Linked DNA regions of Homo sapiens. The protein of the gene in region 3 purifies or fractionates together with the protein of the main gene of each other region. This does not show direct contact. Each region holds a gene or a part of one and is shown on either strand. Other genes may lie near its edges. The genes, in order: ITPR1, ATP7A and RAB29.

Region 1 (7,119 bases), on a different chromosome or scaffold from region 3:
TAAATTTTATTTTTACTTTTATTTTCAATTTTTTTTGTCGAGACAAAATATACATATAAAATTTGCAGGCCATGGTCCATGTGTTCCAAAGTGGTGTCTTGGACGTTTATCAGAAACGACGCAGTGCAAAACTTGGTCACATCTTGAGGTCCACTCACCGTGGTGACCTAAGAAGGATTGGTCGATTGAGTCATTCTTTCCACGGGTACTTATTGACTCCCTACCATGTGCACTGTGAGGAATGCAAAAATGATTCGAACAGGGGCTCCATCCACAGGGGTTTATAGTCTGATGGGAGAATAAGGTATGATGAAGCTGCGTGGATGTGGAAATAAAACCACCAGAAAGTTCTTCTGAGACTGGAGTCCGGGAGTGGGGTCATGTGACTCCACATGGTAAAGATCAGAGAAGGGTTGATGGAGGAGGTAGGGTTTCATCTGAGCCTTTAAGGTGCATGGGCTTTGTACATGGAGAAACAAGGGCCCGTTCTCAGGTGGATGGAGCAGCCTGAAGCCGAGTACCATGGGATGCAGGTCAGTGGGCAGTTCTTGCTGAGCAGAGACATAGAGTGTGCTGAGGGGAAGTTGTCAGAAGTGAGTTTGGAAAGGAGGACCAAGCCACACTGCACAGAGCTTTGGGTGTCTAAAATGCTAAGGCTTATTCTCTGTTGAGCCTTTGAAAGTCTTCAAGCGGGAGCTTAACATAAGAACAAGTGGTTAGGAGGCTGATTTGGTGAATTTGGTTCTGTAAATGGAACAGGCAGGAGATAATGAGGCCTTGAGCAGGGAGAAACGGCAGTAGGGGAGAACTCTATGAGAAGCGGTAAATGGAGAACCACCAGGACTTAGTCTCTGATTAGATGTGTGTCCAGGAAGGAGGCGCTGATGATCAGGCAACTGACTGAGGTTGAGGAAACCCAGGCAGAAAGTAGATGAAGGCAAGACTGACAATGTTAGTGTGTTAGCGCTCTCCAGAGAAACAGAACAAATAGGATACATACAGATAGACAAGAGGGGGTTTATTATGGGAATTGGCCTCACGCAGTTACGGAGGCCGAGAAGTCCCCCAGTCTGCCACAGCAAGCTGTGTCCCGGGAAAGCCAGTGGTGTGATTCAGCCTGAGTCCCAAGGCTGAGAACCAGGGGAGCTGAAGGTGTAACTCTCAGTCTGAGGCCAAAAGCCGGAGAACCTGGAGCTCTGATGGGCAGGAGAAGATGAGTGTCCCAGCTCCAGAACAGGTGGATTCGGTCTTCCTCCACCTGTTTGCTCTATCCAGGCCCTCCGTGGATTGGATGGTGCCCACTCACACTGGGTGAGAGCGGATCTTCTTTACTCAGCTCACTGATTCAAATGCCAGTCCATTCTGGAAACCCCCTCATAGATTTACCCGGAAATAAAGTTGTACAAGCTGTCTAGGTGTCCTTGAACCCAGTCAAGTTGGCATATAAAATTAACCATCGCAGTTACTTTTGTGAAACACTGAGTTTGAGGCCCTGGGAAGATAGCAAATAGGATGTCCAACAGTCTGTAGGACACATACACTGAGAGCATGGAGGCAGGCCAGAGACCTATCTCCCTCTGGAAGAGGTGATGGCCACTGGACTGGGAAAGGTTGCTGGGAGGCTAAGCAGAGACAAGGGGAGAACGGAAGGAAGAACGTGAGTGAGATCCCTACATGATGTCAGCTGCTCAATCTTTCTTTTTGGTTCTAGCAGCAATCCTGGGAAAAGTGACCCTGTGTTGGAATAAAGGGTGAGGGAATACAGGAGGCAAAAGAAGAGGGTGTCCAAGGGTTTGTACCCAAACCAGGGGAAACAACCAGAAACAGGAAATAGGAACCAAGCTAATTTTCCATAGTAAAAAACAAATTTTTTTTTGTTAATTCTCTTAAATCCAAAGCAGGCAACTTCACTCTTTTCAGTGTTAGGCCCAGAGTTGACATTCAATACTTACTGAAATGGAGTCTTGTTTTATAGACTCCATTTATGGAGCCAGGAGTGAGTGATTTAGTGTTCCAATTGTTAAATTAATTGCCAGGATGCTGAAGCTTACACTAGAGGCTAAGGTGCTATGGGCAGACTTCATATGCCCCATGGAAGTCTGCTGTTGTTAAAATGACTGTTGAAATCTAAGCCAAATACTTGGCTCACTTAGTGCTTAAGGTAATTGATGCAGCTGATACCAGGCCCCGCCAGTGTGTGGTGGCTTGGCAGAGTCAAGATGGTATGTTAATGTAACCAATCTGTTTCCATTTCCACTTGAATCTTTAGTTTATTTTGAATGTGAGGTTGGATTATAGGATCTCCTGCCTCCTGTGTATATTTAAGCGAGAGTTTGATGAAAGCAATTCCCAGACTTCAGAAACATCCTCCGGAAACAGCAGCCAAGAAGGGCCAAGTAATGTACCAGGTTAGTGATTCAGAATGGAATTTCAGCCATAGAATGGGACCTGGCTCTAAGGAAAATGGGGAGAGCAAACAGTATCTTCTAGAAAAAGGGTGAAAATGGTTTTGAGGATTATTGCACCAGGGCATCATCCTGGCAGTTACTCTTTTTGAGCAAGTGAATAATTGATAGAGCCCAGATTCCTTCTGGGTTGGATCTTGTTTCCTTCCATCTGGGAGTGTCTTAGTGATGAGACAGTTGAGGTTTCCAGCATTGTGGCTACCCACCTCCCCCGCAAAAATACCAAAATAAAAACAGTAACAAAAAACTCTCCAGGAGACTTCTTGACCACTAGCAGCTTTTACTCACTTTGGAAGTTTTTCCCTGCCCAGGAACTAGTGGTGACGGGAGATGGTAGGAGTAGAAATAATCCCATCTACCAAGCCCAAGCTTCCATGAGTGAGATCATTGCTGTCCTTTACCAGGGGACCATGCAGTGAGGGAGGAAGGGGCAGGAATGTGGAATATGTGGTTAATGTCATCTGGGTTAGTCACTCTGCATAGCTTTGCAATATAATGTTCTGGGAGATTTGGGGTTAACTCAACAGCTTTACCCTGCAAAACTTATGGATGAGTTCACCAGCAGCATGTTTGCAGACCTTCCTGCATCTGAAGTGGTATGTTCTAACTTTTCAGGTGCTCTTGACTTTGAACACATTGAAGAACAAGCAGAAGGCATCTTTGGAGGAAGGAAAGTATATTTTCAGTTACTGTTTTGTAGGGAAGGCTGCTCTTCCAGAGCTCTCAGAGGCCTTCCCTTTATTATGTTAGTAAATATTTAGTCTCTGGGCTTAGGTTGTTTTGGTGCTATCTTTGGAACTGTTAGTACTCAAGTCAGAGTTAACTTGGTTGGCTTGATTGGGAGGAGAGAGAGAGTGAGAGAGAGAGAGAGAGAAAGTGTGTGTGTGTGTGTGTGTGTGTGTGTGTGTGTCCCACCTAGGACAGAAAGGATTTAAGGAGATTTCTCAAAATACCTACATTACAAGATTATTTTTACATAGTGAGGAAATGCAATCAAAAGAAGAATAGAAAGAGAGAGGGGCTCAAAACAGAGTGAAGTTAGTAAGATCATGTCCTGCTGCTGCTGCTGGGCTACAATTTTATCCCTGAGCTCCTTACAGGCTATGCAACAAAGAAAGCAAAATCTGGTCTTTCATTGTTCCTAATATTAATGTATGAACCCCTTTAAAAAAAAACCGCACTGGTCAATTTTGACTTAAGACATTATTATAATTATGGAACTCTTATACCTCCAAGTATAAAATTTGGTATAAACACCATATGCACATAGTTCTTATAATTAGCACACTTGGTTTGATTATTGCTTTATAACATATTACTCCAAAAAACTTAAGGATTCAAACCACCACCATTTTATTAATACTTCTTACAGTCCTGTGGCTTGATTAAGCTGGATGGTTCTTCTGCTGGTGGTCACTGTTGGGTCTGTCATACTGTAGTGAGGTGGTAACTGGGGCTGGCACCTCCAAGTTGGATTATTCACATTTCTGGCACTATAGCAGAGATGCCTGCAAGGCCAGAACTTCTTTCTCTCTCTGTCCATGTGGATAGCTTGGGCTTCTTTACAGCACGGTGGCTGACTCAAAAAGCAAATGTTCTAAGAGGACAAGCCAACAGTATGCAAGTGCTAATTGGGCCTCTGCTTGCATTGCATCTCCTAATATCTTATTGTTCAAGCAAATCCCATGGCCAAGCTCATTGTCAGTGTGGGAGGGGACTACATAAGGGTTTGAACACTCTGTTGGGGCCCACCAGTGTTAATAGTCTACCTCAATGCTTAATATAAAACCTGTGAAATTTGAATTAGCAACATTATGTACTATGATGGAAGATGTTTTTCTGAAACTTAAACATGGTATTGTGAGTTTAGCATAATACAGGTTCCATGTGCTGTGTGATCACTCAGCTCTCCCGCCATTTTCCTCATAGTGAACAGCATTGAAACCTTCACACCTTTTTGGAATACATAGCATGAATACAGTATTTATAAGTCTTCTCTGTGCTTTTCTTATTAGCCAGCAACCAGGAAGTTTCCACCATTTGTCATTCATTTGACTCTAAACCCAATATAGGTGCAGACCCAATAATTGACTAGCAGTGCTCAGTTATGGAGTAGTCTGCCATTTGATCTAGGATATGCTTATTAATATTTAAATATAGTCAGGCATGGTAGTGCATTCCTATAGTCCCAGCTACTCAGTATGCTAAGGCAGGAGGATCATTTGAGCATAGGAGTTTGAATTCAGCCTGGGCAACATAGCAAGACCTCATCTCTAAAAACTAAATACATAAACTAATAACTTAGGAGAAACACATCCTCTTGCAGTTCTCAGACCACAGACGAAGCCCAGCAGAAGAACACCCTATGTAGATGTTGAGAATCTAATGCTAGTCTTGTCACTTTGGCTTAAAATTTGACTTATCTTTTAATATGACATCTTCCTTGTCCCCTCACCTCATAATATAGTTGAAGATGAAGCAAGGCTGTATTGTTAAAGGAGCTAATGAAAAGTGAAATTGCATGTCTGGAGATCACAGTGCTAGAAATGCAACTAGGTTAGGTGCATCTGGGCCCAAGGGGCGTGAGAGGAGGCATTTGTCATTCATTTGGCCTTTCCCCACCTTGTGCTCCTTTAGTGAGGAGAACACCCCACTGGACTTGGATGACCACGGCGGCAGAACCTTTCTCCGTGTCCTGCTCCACTTGACGATGCATGACTACCCACCCCTGGTGTCAGGGGCCCTGCAGCTCCTCTTCCGGCACTTCAGCCAGAGGCAGGAGGTGCTCCAGGCCTTCAAACAGGTAGCTCAGGTCACCCACGTGTGTGTTGTCTGTCCAAGAAGCTGTTGTGTGCACCTAACGGATTGCGTTCATTAAGGTTCAACTGCTGGTTACCAGCCAAGATGTGGACAACTACAAACAGATCAAACAAGACTTGGATCAACTGAGGTCCATCGTGGAAAAGTCAGAGCTTTGGGTGTACAAAGGGCAGGGCCCCGATGAGACTATGGATGGTGCATCTGGAGAAAATGAACATAAGAAAACGGAGGTGAGTGAAACACAAGTTATGCTGCCAAAGTGGATGGATGGGCTTCTCGAAACTAGGGAGCATCCTCTTCTGGTTTTAGGTATAAATGTGATAGGATTTATTTTCAAGAGATCTGCTTGTTAAGTCACCAAGATCACAAGCTGTTTGCCTAGGAAATAAGCTACGAATCAAAGTTTAGCTATGTCTCCTGTGCAGCCTTGGACCATGTAGAAGAGACTGCGATATTGAGTGAATTAGCACCAGGTTTCCCTTACAGACCCACTTGGGAATTGACCTGTTCTCTAGGCATGGCCCAGCCCACTACTATCCCTTCCCAAGGAAACCCATAGCAAGTAGGTAGATGACTGGGGCATAAGCCCAGCATGACTATTGTAAAACAGTATAGAACTCCCTTTCTTTCCTAAAGGTCGATGCTAACTGTAAAAAACTGACAGTAGCCCAAGAGTTGTACAGATCACACTTGTGTTCACTTTGGTTTCTAGGAGGGAAATAACAAGCCACAAAAGCATGAAAGCACCAGCAGCTACAACTACAGAGTGGTCAAAGAGGTAAGCTCCTCCCCCACCACCATTTTTCCTTTCTTTATGAATTCTCTAAGGAGCTTTAGTTTGTGATAGTCAAGTTGAAGGTACACACATTTGAGCTTTTTTCTTCATGTGGTTTAACAGGGAGAAAGTAGAGCTCAGAGGTTAAGCTCATGGGTTTTGGCATCAGATCTGGGCTCCACACCCAGCTCTTCTACTTATTATTTTTGTCCTCAGCTTCCTCACCTTTTGTAGGTGCAACCTTTCGTAGGCACCGCATATTTCTGAAGCTTTACAATTGAAGGAAGGACTAATTGAGAATACTGTCAGGGAGTCATCTAAGTGCCTGGTACACAGTGTCCCCACTGAGAGCTGTAGTTTTTTAGAAACCTTTGCGTACGCTGGTTCAAAGTTGGGAGGCTGGGAGCTTTGTGTGTTTTACCCCAGAGCAAACTCTTCCCAGGGTCTCGGCAATGATGCCAGGTCATTCCATTTTAAGCGATATCTCTGAAACTGTCCCACTTGTTGTTGAAGCCATAATCCCCTGCTTATTCTGGAAGACGTGACCTTAGTCTTATGGATTTGGCTTGATGGAGTCAACAGAAATGCCACATACTGAAGGAATTTTGTTTTACGTTTTTAATGCATTATAATCCCCTTTGCCTCCCTGCCCGCCACCACCCTCTGCAATCTTTTTCCAGCTATAGTTCCTAGTTTTCTGAGACTGATTTCTTTCATTCTACTAGATTTTGATTCGGCTTAGCAAACTCTGTGTTCAAGAGAGTGCCTCAGTGAGAAAGAGCAGGAAGCAGCAACAGCGTCTGCTCCGGAACATGGGCGCGCACGCCGTGGTGCTGGAGCTGCTGCAGATTCCCTATGAGAAGGTGAGCGGTGCCTCATGCACAGCAGCTGCTCTCAGGATGGGGCGGATCCCTGGGTTTCCCCAAACTCTTCACATCTGGATATTGTTAGTGAAGAAATGCATCCAGTGTGACTATTGTGACTACAAAGCAATTTCAGGTATTGATATGAAACAGAGCATCTGAAAAATAAAGTAAAATCACCCGTGAATAATCCTCA
Region 2 (7,119 bases), on a different chromosome or scaffold from region 3:
TGGGCATTTTCCAGTTTAATTCAAGGCCAGGTTCAATTCTGGTTCAAAAGAACAATTTCACATAATTAAATTCCATTGAATATACATTTTTTGTTTCAGTTCAAAGGTAAGAGCTGTCAGGAAATACGAAAACTTTGGGACAGCTCTGGAGTCAGTTTAATTTGAATGCCTAAATATAAAATTATAGTTAAAATCCTATTATTTATTTCAACTACTTTTGTTTTTAAAAGAGCACTGGCTTCCCCCATTATATAAATACATAGCTACATACATACATTCTTATTGTAAAAACAACTTATAAAACCAGGAAACACAATGGAAACAAAAATCACATTTATCCTACCACCCAAAGATAATCACTGTTAAAATTTTGGTTCATATCCTACCAGGAATCTTATTCATATACATAAACAATATATACATGGCGTAAATTCAGATACATTTCTTTATAAAATTTTGATCACATTGTATATATAGCTTTTCAGCTTTTTTTCATTTAACAAAATACCTCAGACACCTTCCTGTGGCATTAATTATCTTTAATACCATAATGTTTTATGACTTCATAGCATTTCATCATGAGTTATTTATTGTTGCACCACGAGTTATTGTTTCCAGTTTTTAAATATCATAAGCAATTATACAAACATCCTTATGCATCTTTGTATATACTGCTGGCTACCTCCATAGGACATATTTGCAAAAGTGGAATTACAGTGCCTATGAATCATTTCTCATTGATAAATGCCAAAAGAAGCAGCAAAATGGAAGTAAAAGAACATTAGGGTAATCAAAGAAAAAATGATAATTACCTGACAAGGTAGCATCAAATCCCATGTCTTCTATTGCTCCTCTCAACGTTTCTGGAGAGGTTAGTAGAGGATCATACTCAACAGTCCCATTGCTATTTGCAAGGGAGACTCGTATGGATTTTACACCTGGCTTTTTTGATATGACACCCTCAATAGACTGCACACAGGAATTACAAGTCATGCCATCAATGTTTATCACAGTTTCTTGTGTCAGAGGCTGGCTAACTACATTCAAAGGAATCTTCTGAAGAGATGAGCTGGAGGGAGAGTTTGAGGTACTCTCAACTTCACTTGTGATACTAACTCTATATAGCCCCGGTGATACAGCCTCTATTGCTTTTCTCAGGGATTCTGGAGTGACTGAGCTTGCATTATACTTCACAATGGCAGACCTATTCTCTAAAGAAACTACTATGCTGCTTACATATTGGAGTGCAGATAAAGTACTTTCAATATTTGACACACATGATTTACAATGCATGCCATCAATGATGAAAGTGGCTGTTGAATCATTGGTATATGATGGACTCCTTTGCTGTGACCCTTCTGAGGATTTAACTGGTGTGTTCTTTAGACGTTCTACATCAATAGCTCCCAATTTGAGGTACTTGGGCTGCTTTTTGACAAATGCTGGAAAGCCCATAGCTTCAATCTGCTTTTTCATTTCCTCTACTGAGATAAGATGAGGTTGATAAACAATAGTAGCTTCTTGATTGTCCAGGGAGACTAGTTAATAAAAAGAAATATAATTAATTCAGTTATTCCTGGGCTACTTCAGAAAACATTCTGTTTTCTAAATCAATAACCACAAATAATTGTTTCTCTCTCATTCTTGTCATCATATTTTCTTAATTTTTTTTCTTTTCAGAAAATGTTATTGGCATAGACTAGAAACAAGTAAGAGATATGACCACTGTAGCTATGGTCTCCAAGTTTCTCCATGCCTAAGTAAAATATATTAGAGGTAAAGAGTACCCTAGTCATGTTGTGTTAAGAACCTTGAATTCCATGAATTGCCAACCCAGCTGCCTTTTCTTCAGTTCAAGGTTTATGTAACCTTTAATTATAATCATTAACTTTTAATCCTGGGAATATGCTGTACCTCAATGATACAGCAAGCACTCTAGTCTCATGGATTCAAAACTCATGCTTAAGAAGAAAGCAAAAAGTTAAAAGATCAAAACAGACACCTAAGCCTTACAAAACAATCAACACCAGACACATTACCTTTAATTCGCTGAACACCTTGCAGTTTCCCAATTTTTCCTTCAATAGTGCTAGTACATGAATGGCAGGTCATCCCTTCCACTTTCATCTTCAGCACGACTTCACCAGCTTGAGCCATACTATGATCTTCACAAGCTCCTGACTTTTTCTCCAGTGTCCCAGTATCTAAACTGAGTTCTGGAACCAGCTCTTTTATCTGATTGGCATTCACTATAGAAGGGATTATTGTCACTGCTACAGTTCTTTTCTGAGGGTAAATTTTAATGTCTGTCACACCCTTGGTCTTCAGCAATGTGCTTTGGATATGGTCCCATGGCAAAGTCAGTGACGCCGTAACAGTCAGAAACAAGGTGTCAGTTAAAACAGGGAGAGGGTCAGGATTATGGATAACAGCATCAAAGCCCATGTCATCAATAGCTTCCTGTAGGGTCTTTGGAGTCTGTAGTTTAGGGTCATAAATAATAGTTGCATTTTTTTCTTCCAGTGATACCTTTTGGAAGGAAATTCCAAAAGTCAGTTTAATTAAATTCTATCACACAGGATTTAAAATAATAATCATCACACCACATTCAAGAAGAGTGAGACAACTCAATCTAATGGAGTTTCCCTATTAGTTTTCATTTTTACTCTTCTTGTTAGAAAGAAACATAAAATGTCTTGTGTACCTACAAGAATGGTAAAGTTATATATGCAGACATATGTGACTGTGGTACCTATCAGGCATTTGAAACATGTATATTGACAAACACACCCAAGAATTTCACAACAGAGTACAAACTACTCTTTCCTTCCATTCCTTTCATAAATTACTCCAACACTTCACACTCTACCAACTGAAAAGGTTATACATGAAACAGGATCAGCTACAGAAAAATAAAAGGTAATATGAAGTTTAATATTTTAAAATGTCCAATTTCCTAAAAATATGTATAACTATTATATGTCAATTTAAAAAAATAAAAATAATGTTCAATTAGGATAACTTTGTTGGCAAGAAAAGTATAAGCCTGCCGGTTTATGAGTGAAGGCAGTATTCATAGGATTTTATAGCATATACTCCTATATCCCCCTAAGTCACTAGAGCATACTATTAATTTTGTTCAAAATAAGAACATCTTTATTGTTTTGCCCAATTAGATTATAAAACAATGATTATATTCTTGTAGCTTAGTTACTGCATATAATTTAACTACTGTCATGATTGCATCTCTTTGGCTGACATCTTACAAAGATTCATGATGAAGACACACACACACACACACACACACACACACACACACACACACAAATACTGGGTTGGGAGTCAGAAGATTTAAGTTCCAGCATCAATTCTCCACTTATTAGCTAACCACACCCATTAGTTCTACCATCTGAAAAATGAGAAAATATGCCCTATTATCTTCCAGGGCTATTACAAGGATCATACGAGTAAATAGGAAAGTTCTTCGTAACAGCAGTGAATTATATAAAATTAAACATTGAGCAACTAATATTTATTGAGCACTTATTATGTGCGTCAGGAACTGGGATTCTCAGGATACAAAGCTGAACATGTCACAGGAACAATAGGACAGAGAATACAGAAAAGGGATACCCATTCATCCCTGGGAATATGGGTCAGAAAAGTATTCTTAGGAGAGATAATACCTGAATGTTAAAGGACAAACAGGAATCAGCAAGGATATATGAGGCAGAGAATTCCAGATGAATGGAAACAAAAAAGTAGAGAAAGATAAGAGGCTTGAAAATTAGGCAACTGCTCTATTATGGGGTTCTATATGCCAATAATGGTTGTGATTTATCCTATAGGTAATAGGAAGCCATGGAAAAGTTAAGCAGAGAATTATGTGATTAGATTTTCATTTTAGAGAAGGATCATTCTGGAGGCAGTGTGGAAGATGATAGTGTAGTAGGGTGGAGTGATACAGGAGGGAGGACTATCAGCTAGGAGGCTACTGCAATTGCAAAAGTAGTGCAATAGAGGGTCTGAATTAAGACATGAATACTGGGGGCAAAGATAAAAGAGGCAGCTCCAAGATACATTCAGGAGGGTAGGGCCTCCTAACAAGATGTATAGGATAAAGGAGACGACTAGGATGACTTAAAGGTATCTGGCTTGGGCCAGTGGATAGATAGATGGTGGCGTCATTAACTGATATCAGAAAGAGAGGAGGAAATCAGGAGGAAATTAAGAGGTTAAAGTGGAGGGAAAGGAGAGATGATAAATTCAGTGCTGGACCTATTGATTTTTGAGATGGCCATAGGATATTAATATTCAAAAAAGCAGTTAAATATAGGTGTTATTAATTTCTAGTGAAAAGCTTTGCTCTATAAAATAAAAACTCAAAATTATAATTAAAAGTAATTCAGCATAGAAAATCTCTCTTTAAATTGTCTACAATAGTTAAATCTTTCACTTATTTTAATGAACATATTTTTATTTCTTCCTTTAGCTTGATAATTGATGACTGTGTATTTGGGTGAAAATGTGAAATGTACCCATGGCATGGAAAGTTTCTAAGACTCTGATAATTCTAGTTGGCTAGCTGGTTCTTAGGGATGGAGGAAATCACTAGCATAAATGATCCAAAACAGAAGTGGGGAAATAAATTATATTTGGTTTTGGATAATACTATATAACATTTTCCATGAAAAAAAAATGCAGAATAGTCAAACCACGTATAGTTGAGACATATAGTATTGAAAGACATGCAATATAAGAGTAGCCACCATCAAATGAAGGCTTTTGTGTCCTTGTGTTTTTAAAGAAGGCCTCTTTTAAACTTTAATTTCCCTCCCCTGAGGTGATTTTAGGGTTAAGAAAATGACTGTAAATAATTTAAACTTTCCAACTAAAGGGGAAGATGGAGAACAGAACAGTGGTTTCCAGGGGTTAGAGGTAGGGAAAATGGTAGCAAGAGGGAGTTTTTTAGGGGTAACAGGGCTGCGCTATGTCCTGGTTGTGTTGGTGTTAAACAAATCTATACATGTGTTAACATTCACAAAACTAAAAAAAAATTTCATAGAACTATATACCCAAAAAAAGTCTATTTTACTAGATGATTATTTTTTAAAACAAAAAAAACTATTAAATAAGATTAAAAATTCAGTTCCTCGGTTGCACTAGCCACATTTCAAGTGTTCATTGGCCAATGTGGTTAGTCCTACCAGACAGGGCGGATACACAGTATTTCCATCATCACAGACCATTCTTGGGTGGTATTGCTCTAGGTACTACTATACTTTTTCTGATAAAGTACCAACGTAAAGGATTCTTGCCCTTTAAATACGTTGTATCCGGTACATCTTAAACAAGACCTGGTTCCCCCGCACCCACCCCCCCCAAAAATGTCAATTTACCAACATAGCCAATCAGAAATTGTTCTCATTTTAAAAGCAAAAATCACTTCCTCAGGCCAGGTGGCACACGCCTGTAATCCTAGCACTTTGGGATGCTGAGGTGGTTGGGCAGATAGCTTGAGCTCAGGAATTCCAGACCAGTCTGGGCAACATGGTGGAACCCTGTCTCCACAAAAAATACAAAAATTACCCAGGCATGGTGACACACTCCTGTAGTCCCAGCTGCTCAAGGGGCTGAGGTGGGAGGATTGCCTGAGCCTGAAGGTCAAGGCTGCAGTGAGCCAAAGTCGTGCCACTGCACTCCAGCCTGGGTGACAGAGTGACACTGTCTCAAAAAAAAAAATCACTTTGTCACTGGATGGTTTGCTATACTTTCTAACTGCTTTAGCCTATCTTTTATTTATAAAAGGCATAAGAAAACTATGCATAAAATACTACACAAAAGAGAAGTCAAAGTACCCTACGCTATTTGCATGCTGCAGATGAGAAAACACTTCCTTTAGTAAATTCTATTTCTGTTTTAAAAGCTGACCAACCACACTCAGCACAAACAAAAGTATCCCTCTTTGGGGTAACAGCACTCAACTTTGCCTCTGAATGTTAGATAGCAAAGAGACTTTTCAAACCTAAGGTCTCAAAGGAAACAAATTCACAGTACAGCTCTGGGTGCTAAATCTTTGGGCAGGAAGTCAAAATGGTACTTATTGGCTGGGCGTGGTGGCTCACACCTGTAATCCCAGCACTTTGGGAGGCTGAGGTGTGCGGATCACTTGAGGTCACAGTTTGAGGCCAGCCTAGCCAATGCAGGAAAACCCGTCTCTACCAAAAATACAAAAATTAGCTGGCCGTGGTGGTGGGTGCCTGTAATCCCAGCTACTCGGGAGGCTGAGGCAGGAGAATCACTTGAAGAACCACTTGAAGAACCACTTGAAGAATCACTTGAAGAACCTCGGGAGGTGGAGGTTGCAGTGAGCCGACATTGCACCACTGCACTCCAGGCTGGGCGGCAAAACAAGACTTCGCCTCAAAAAAAAAAAAAGGTACTTATGTATTCAACAAATATTTATTGAATGTCCATTATGTGCCCGGCACTATGCTAGCTGCTAGAGATACAGTGATGAGCAAAACCAGGCAGACTCCATAGAGCTGGAAAGTGCTGGCGGCAGTCTGATTCCGGGTCTGTGCTGCTCTCCTTTCATATGTCCTCTAACCCCAACCCCTGCTCCAAAAATAACTTCCCTTCTCTGCCCTACCCCACCTTCCTCATTCCCCACATTGCTCCAATATTTCGACAGCTTGTCTTTTTCTCTTAATCTTTTATTAGGAACCAATGTTGTTATTTTTATTTTCAGAGGAACTATTTTTCCATTATATCAATCGTTCCTCTGGGCCGGAGTGGTGGCTCATGCCTGTAATCCCAGCACTTTGGGAGGCCGAGGTGGGTGTATCACTTAAGGCCAGGAGTTCGAGACCAGCCTGGCCAACATGGTGAAACCCCGTCTCTACTAAAAATGTAAAAATTATCTGGGCATGGTGGCGGGCGCCTGTAATCCCAGCTACTCAAGAGGCTGAGGCACAAGAATCGCTTGAACCCGGGAGGCGGAGGTCGTGCCACTGCACTCCAGCCTGGACAAGAGAGTGAAACTCCGTCTCGGAAAAAAAAAAAAGTTCCTCTGAAAATAAATGTAACAGCCTACAAATTATAAATATAGCTCATAGG
Region 3 (5,116 bases):
CCAGTTGGGAGAGAATATCCAGAAGGGCTGGCTGGCTGGCCAGCCTCTAACAATGCTTGAAAAGGCAGGTAAATCCTGAGTCAGCAAATGGGAAAAGCAAGCACATTCAGTTTTTCAAAAAGGTCACGTTTCCAAGTAGTATTTGGCATGTTCCATCAAGTACTGAATTGGTACTAGGCAGATGGATCTAAGCAATTGGTATTAGTAAGTTAACAGGTAAACAGAATAATATTTACCTTCATTTTAAAAGAAGGTATTTAACCACATTTCTCACTTGTAAGTGGGAGGTAAACATTGGGCACACACATAAAGATGGGAACAACAGACACTGGAGACTCCCAAAAGTGGGGAGAGAGGGAGTAAGCGTTGAAAAAGTGCCGACTGGGTGCTATGTTCACTACTTGGGAGACAGGCTAAGCAGAAACCCAAGCTTTAGCATCACACAATATATCCATGTAACAAACTTGCACACGTACCCCTTGAATTGAAAATTTAGAAAAAGGTATTTAAAAAATAAAGTCTCCATTTCCGCAATCCTCTTGAGCTATCAGTATAAAACAGCACTTTGACAAACTCACATTAAAGGCCAATAACCACCATGAATACAAGACTTAGTTCTCATTTATTTGTGATTTTGCAGGTGTTCAAACCAATGAATGAAAATCAATTATCTCTTCATATCAATGAAATTCACTATTTCACTATTATCTTCAGAATCATAGTGATCAAAACCCTACCTGAAAATGGTAATACAAAAGAGAACTATTAATACAAGGTTTCAGAAGACTGTGCAAGTTAAAATAATTGGCATTAAAACGACACACAACAAACCACCGAAGGTTTGGTCCCTTTTCTCTCTGATATGTGGCCTCTGATCTCTTTCTTAGGGCAGTGGTTTTCAACGTCTGTGTAGCAGAATCACCTGAAAAGCTAACAGAATATATAGAAACCCAGGATTTGTATTTGTATTTAAATGTAAATACAAAAGGTCTGGGTCTCTGTATCTTTACAAAGTTCTCCAGCAATGGTTTCCAAACCAGGCTTATCACAATCACCAGGGAAGCTCTGAAAACAACAACACATTCCTAGGCTTCATCCCTAGAAATTCTGATTCAGTAGGTTTGAGGTCGGGACCCAAAAATCTTTTTCTTTTTGTTTTTTTTTTTTGGAGATGGAGTTTCACTCTTGTTGCCCAGGCTGAAGCGCAATGGTGTGATCTCAGCTCACTGCAACCTCTAACTCCCAGGTTCAAGCGATTCTCCTGCCTCAGTCTCCCAAGTAGCTGGGATTACAGGTGCCCGCCACCACGCCCAGCTAATTTTTCTTATTTTTAGTAGAGACGGGGTTTCAGTATGTTGGCCAGGTTGATCTTGAACTCCTGACCTCAGGCGATCCACCTGCCTCAGCCTCCCAAAGTGCTGGGATTACAGGTGTGAGCCACCACGGCTGGCTCAGGACCCAAAAATCTTAAAACATTTTTAAAAAATTTTAACAAACTTCCCAGGTATTCCCGACCAGCCAGATTTGGGAACCACTGACTTAGGACACTTATTTAAGGTCTATCACAGAACTTCAGGCCTCAGAGTTTAGTAAGAATATCGATAACTTTGGGTAGGTTATAAATCACCATCCTAGAGATAATTTAACAAATTAAATGGTCTAGTAGTGATTTGATACTAAAAAGCCCTGCCCAATTTAGTACTTAAATTACCTAATGATTTTCTGTCTATCTACTTTCCTCCCCCAGGCTAGGACCTGCACATAATATGTTTCCTATGACTAAGTGCCTACGTGTTCACAAAGTTGCCCCAGTGGAGGTTGTTAACTTCTCTCTTTTCTTCTTCCATTCAGATTCCCAAAGCTGTGAGGAGCAGACCTATTTCGAAGCATCACAGCCAGCTGATGTCACTTGCAGTATTATGCATTAAGACATCAACCCAGAAACCTGCAAATGGGAGACACTAGGCAATCCTATCATGAGGATTAAGCTCTTTGTGGAAGAAAATGCTTTCATTGCATGAGATAGGTAGTTTAAAAATGACTATTCTTTTTTCTTTTTTTTTTGAGACGGAGTCCTTCTCTGTCACCCAGGCTGAAGTGCGGTGGCATGATCTCGGTTCACTGCAACCTCTGCCTCCCAGTCTCAAGCGATTCTCCCACCTCAGTCTCCAGAGTAGCTGGGATTACAGACACGTGCCATCACGCCTGGCTAATTTTTGTACTTTTAGTAGAGACGGGGTTTTGCCATGCTGACCAGGTTGGTCTCGAATTCCTGGCCTCATGTGATCCGCCTGCCTTGGCCTCCCCAAGTGCTGGGATTACAGGCATGAGCCACCATGCCCGGCCAAAAAACTTGACTATTCTTGATGCCAAGACAAGAGAAACTTAATTATGACGTTAGAAGTTTCAAAAATACAGTGACTTCTGGGACACTTCTAGTAGCCAAAAATCCACAGATGCCCAGACCCCCTCCTTCTGCATTCCAGAATCAGATGTTTACATTCCAAGACAGAAAGAATCTGAAACAACGGCCTACAAGAAATTTGGGAAATGACATTTGATCTCATTTTCCTCTCAATTGGAAGTCATGATATCAATGAATATCAAATGGAAAAATAAGCTCAGAAGTAGGTGAGAATTATGATCTCTAAAACGCAGGTGCTGATTTCTAATCCTTCTCATAAAATTCCGGATCACAAATTGAGGGCTGATGAGAAGATCTTACACCGAAGGCACTAACTGGCACTAATGTGAGCCAGCAACATGTGAAAGGCTAATCCAGGAGATGCAGAAATGCACATGGGTTCCAGGTGTCTTTTCTAAGTGACAATGGGCCTCCTTACTGGACAGTAGTCAGGAGACAATTCAAATGTACTTAATAAAATTGTCAGGTGGGCAACCAAAGGGAAGAGACTTAAAAGACCTCCCAGAACTGGGATGGAAAATAAGCCAAACACTACTAGCAGCAGGACCAGCTGGAGGACTTGGTTTGTAGATTGATGTAGTCCCCTTGGGTGGACAAAGACATGATATCTTCTGTGGAATTTCTCATCATCTTTTCAATGAGGACTCTAAAAGACAAAAAATAAGCCTGAGAAGCTTATTTTGGAGGAAAAGCAGAAATGGCAGATGTAGTCTGACTTATCATCAGAGAGTATTTGGTAAAGCCAGAAGGTTTAAATGCCCCTTTGTCCCCAGTTATCTCAGGAAAGACAGTATCCCTGACCTTTAGGGGCTAGCATTCCAATGGCTCAGTCTGTCATTGTTGGCTCAGAAATAAGAAAAGAGGGTCCACAGGGCCACAGTGGAAGATGGATACATCTGCATGCCTATCAGCATGAGCTACTTACCTCATAGCCTCATTAATATTTTTGTTCTCCTTGACTGATGTTTCTGTCCAACCTGTGAAACCGTTCTCTTTACTGAACCGGTCAATCTGGTCCCGGCTCACTGCCCAAGGGGACAGATCACACTAGCAAAGAGAAAAAATAAAAGGCAGTATCATAAACTTCCTGCAACTAAGAAAGAATATGGCTCAGATACTGTGGATTTTAAACATATTTCCACCAATGGATAAGAACACCAGCATCGGAAATCTATAATCAACATTCTTCCCAAAGAAAGTCTCACCCTTGGCTGGGCGCAGTGGCTCACGCCTGTAATCCCAGCACTTTGGGAGGCTGAGGCGGGCAGATCATGAGGTCAGGAGAGCGAGACCATCCTGGCTAACACAATGAAACCCAGTCTCTACTAAAAATACAAAAAAATTAGCTGGGTGTGGTGGTGGGCACCTGTAGTCCCAGCTACTCGGGAGGCTGAGGCAAGAGAATGGCGTGAACCTGGGAGGCAGAGCTGGCAGTGAGCCGAGATCGCGCCACTGCACTCCAGCCTGAGCAACAGAGCGAGACTCCGTCTCAAAAAAAAAAAAAAGAAAGAAAGTCTCACTCACCCTCAACATCCTTTGAAGGAGGTAGAGATGATTTTGCCAACTTAAGAAGGGGAAATGGATGCCCAGAATCAGAGAGCATTTTACTTCCTTTCTAACCACAGATAGAGGCTAGGGACCATTTTCTGAGATTGGCCACATACCTTGTTGGCCAAGAGCAGGCAGGGCACCGGCTCTCCATTGGGTAGTGTGAGCTTGCTGTCTAGGTCCTGTTTCCACCTCTGGCTGTTGCTGAAGGTAGTGGCATTGGTAACGTCAAACATAATAACACAGGCAGAGGCATCCCGATAATACAATCGTGTCATAGAGGTGAAGCGCTCCTGCCCTGGGGAGAAAGGGGAGAGTTCTCAAGGTGACCCAAGAGCCGGCCTCTCCCCATTCCTTGTAGAAGAGGGCAGTAAGCATATGTGTCAGATGGGGCCACTCACTTTCCCCCTCTGACTCTTGGTTTTCTATCCCATAAAGGGATAATGAAGCCCAATTATTTCCAAGGCAGATTCCGCACCCAGATTGCTCCAGTCCAAATCCCTGCTCTGCTGCATACTATTTGACTTCGGGCAAATCAAGCTCTCAGTGCTTCAGATTTCTCATTTGTAAAGTGAAGATAAAAGCAGTCGCTTTTTTTTTTTTTTTTTGAAACAGTTTCCTGCACTCCTGTTGCCCAGGCTGGAGTGCAGTGGTGCCATCTAGGCTCACTGCAACCTCCACCTCCCAGGTTCAAGCAATTCTCCAAAAGCAGTAGCTTTTATGATAGGGTTGATGTGAGGATTAATGAGTCAGTGAATTTAAAATACTTAGAAGAATGCTTGGCACATAGTAAGGATTCACTATTTTTACTGTATCTATTTTCTGGGGATCTTGTTTTTCACCAAGGTCAGCCTTAAACCTAGAAAAAGCACCCTCCCCTGCTGTGGGAGTGTCCACCTATAGTCTGGACAATCCACCACCTTGCCAGCCCCTCCATCCACATAGAGACTGCTCCAGATCTATTCAGGGCAAAACATCTACAAAAGCTCTGCACCTATTCAGCTCATGTGTCCTCAGAGCAGCTCAATCATTCCAGCTTCAGAAAAACAATTTCTGGCTTTGCTGCCCCATTTTTTCCTCAGAGCTTTCTAGTTAAATCAAAATTTCTTCCCTTGTTCCTATCTAGCCCTCCCACTTTACCTG

The links.
Region 1: the proteins of RAB29 (region 3) and ITPR1 purify together in Homo sapiens (affinity purification with mass spectrometry; 2 studies listed by BioGRID and IntAct, with this or other methods). This does not show direct contact.
Region 2: the proteins of RAB29 (region 3) and ATP7A purify together in Homo sapiens (affinity purification with mass spectrometry; 2 studies listed by BioGRID and IntAct, with this or other methods). This does not show direct contact.

Annotation. Positions count from the first base shown.
Region 1 is NC_000003.12:4,678,284-4,685,402, forward strand, and holds part of ITPR1 (inositol 1,4,5-trisphosphate-gated calcium channel ITPR1), read left to right. Parts: intron 1-2,269; coding exon 2,270-2,408; intron 2,409-3,080; coding exon 3,081-3,135; intron 3,136-5,102; coding exon 5,103-5,268; intron 5,269-5,344; coding exon 5,345-5,515; intron 5,516-5,997; coding exon 5,998-6,063; intron 6,064-6,785; coding exon 6,786-6,923; intron 6,924-7,119. UniProt on the Homo sapiens protein: Inositol 1,4,5-trisphosphate-gated calcium channel that, upon inositol 1,4,5-trisphosphate binding, mediates calcium release from the endoplasmic reticulum (ER).
Region 2 is NC_000023.11:77,983,652-77,990,770, reverse strand, and holds part of ATP7A (copper-transporting ATPase 1), read right to left. Parts: intron 2,530-7,119; coding exon 2,040-2,529; intron 1,539-2,039; coding exon 813-1,538; intron 1-812. UniProt on the Homo sapiens protein: ATP-driven copper (Cu(+)) ion pump that plays an important role in intracellular copper ion homeostasis.
Region 3 is NC_000001.11:205,767,383-205,772,498, forward strand, and holds the end of RAB29 (ras-related protein Rab-7L1), read right to left. Parts: coding exon 5,114-5,116; intron 4,272-5,113; coding exon 4,090-4,271; intron 3,473-4,089; coding exon 3,351-3,472; intron 3,072-3,350; coding exon 2,960-3,071; 3' UTR 604-2,959; downstream 1-603. UniProt on the Homo sapiens protein: The small GTPases Rab are key regulators in vesicle trafficking. Essential for maintaining the integrity of the endosome-trans-Golgi network structure.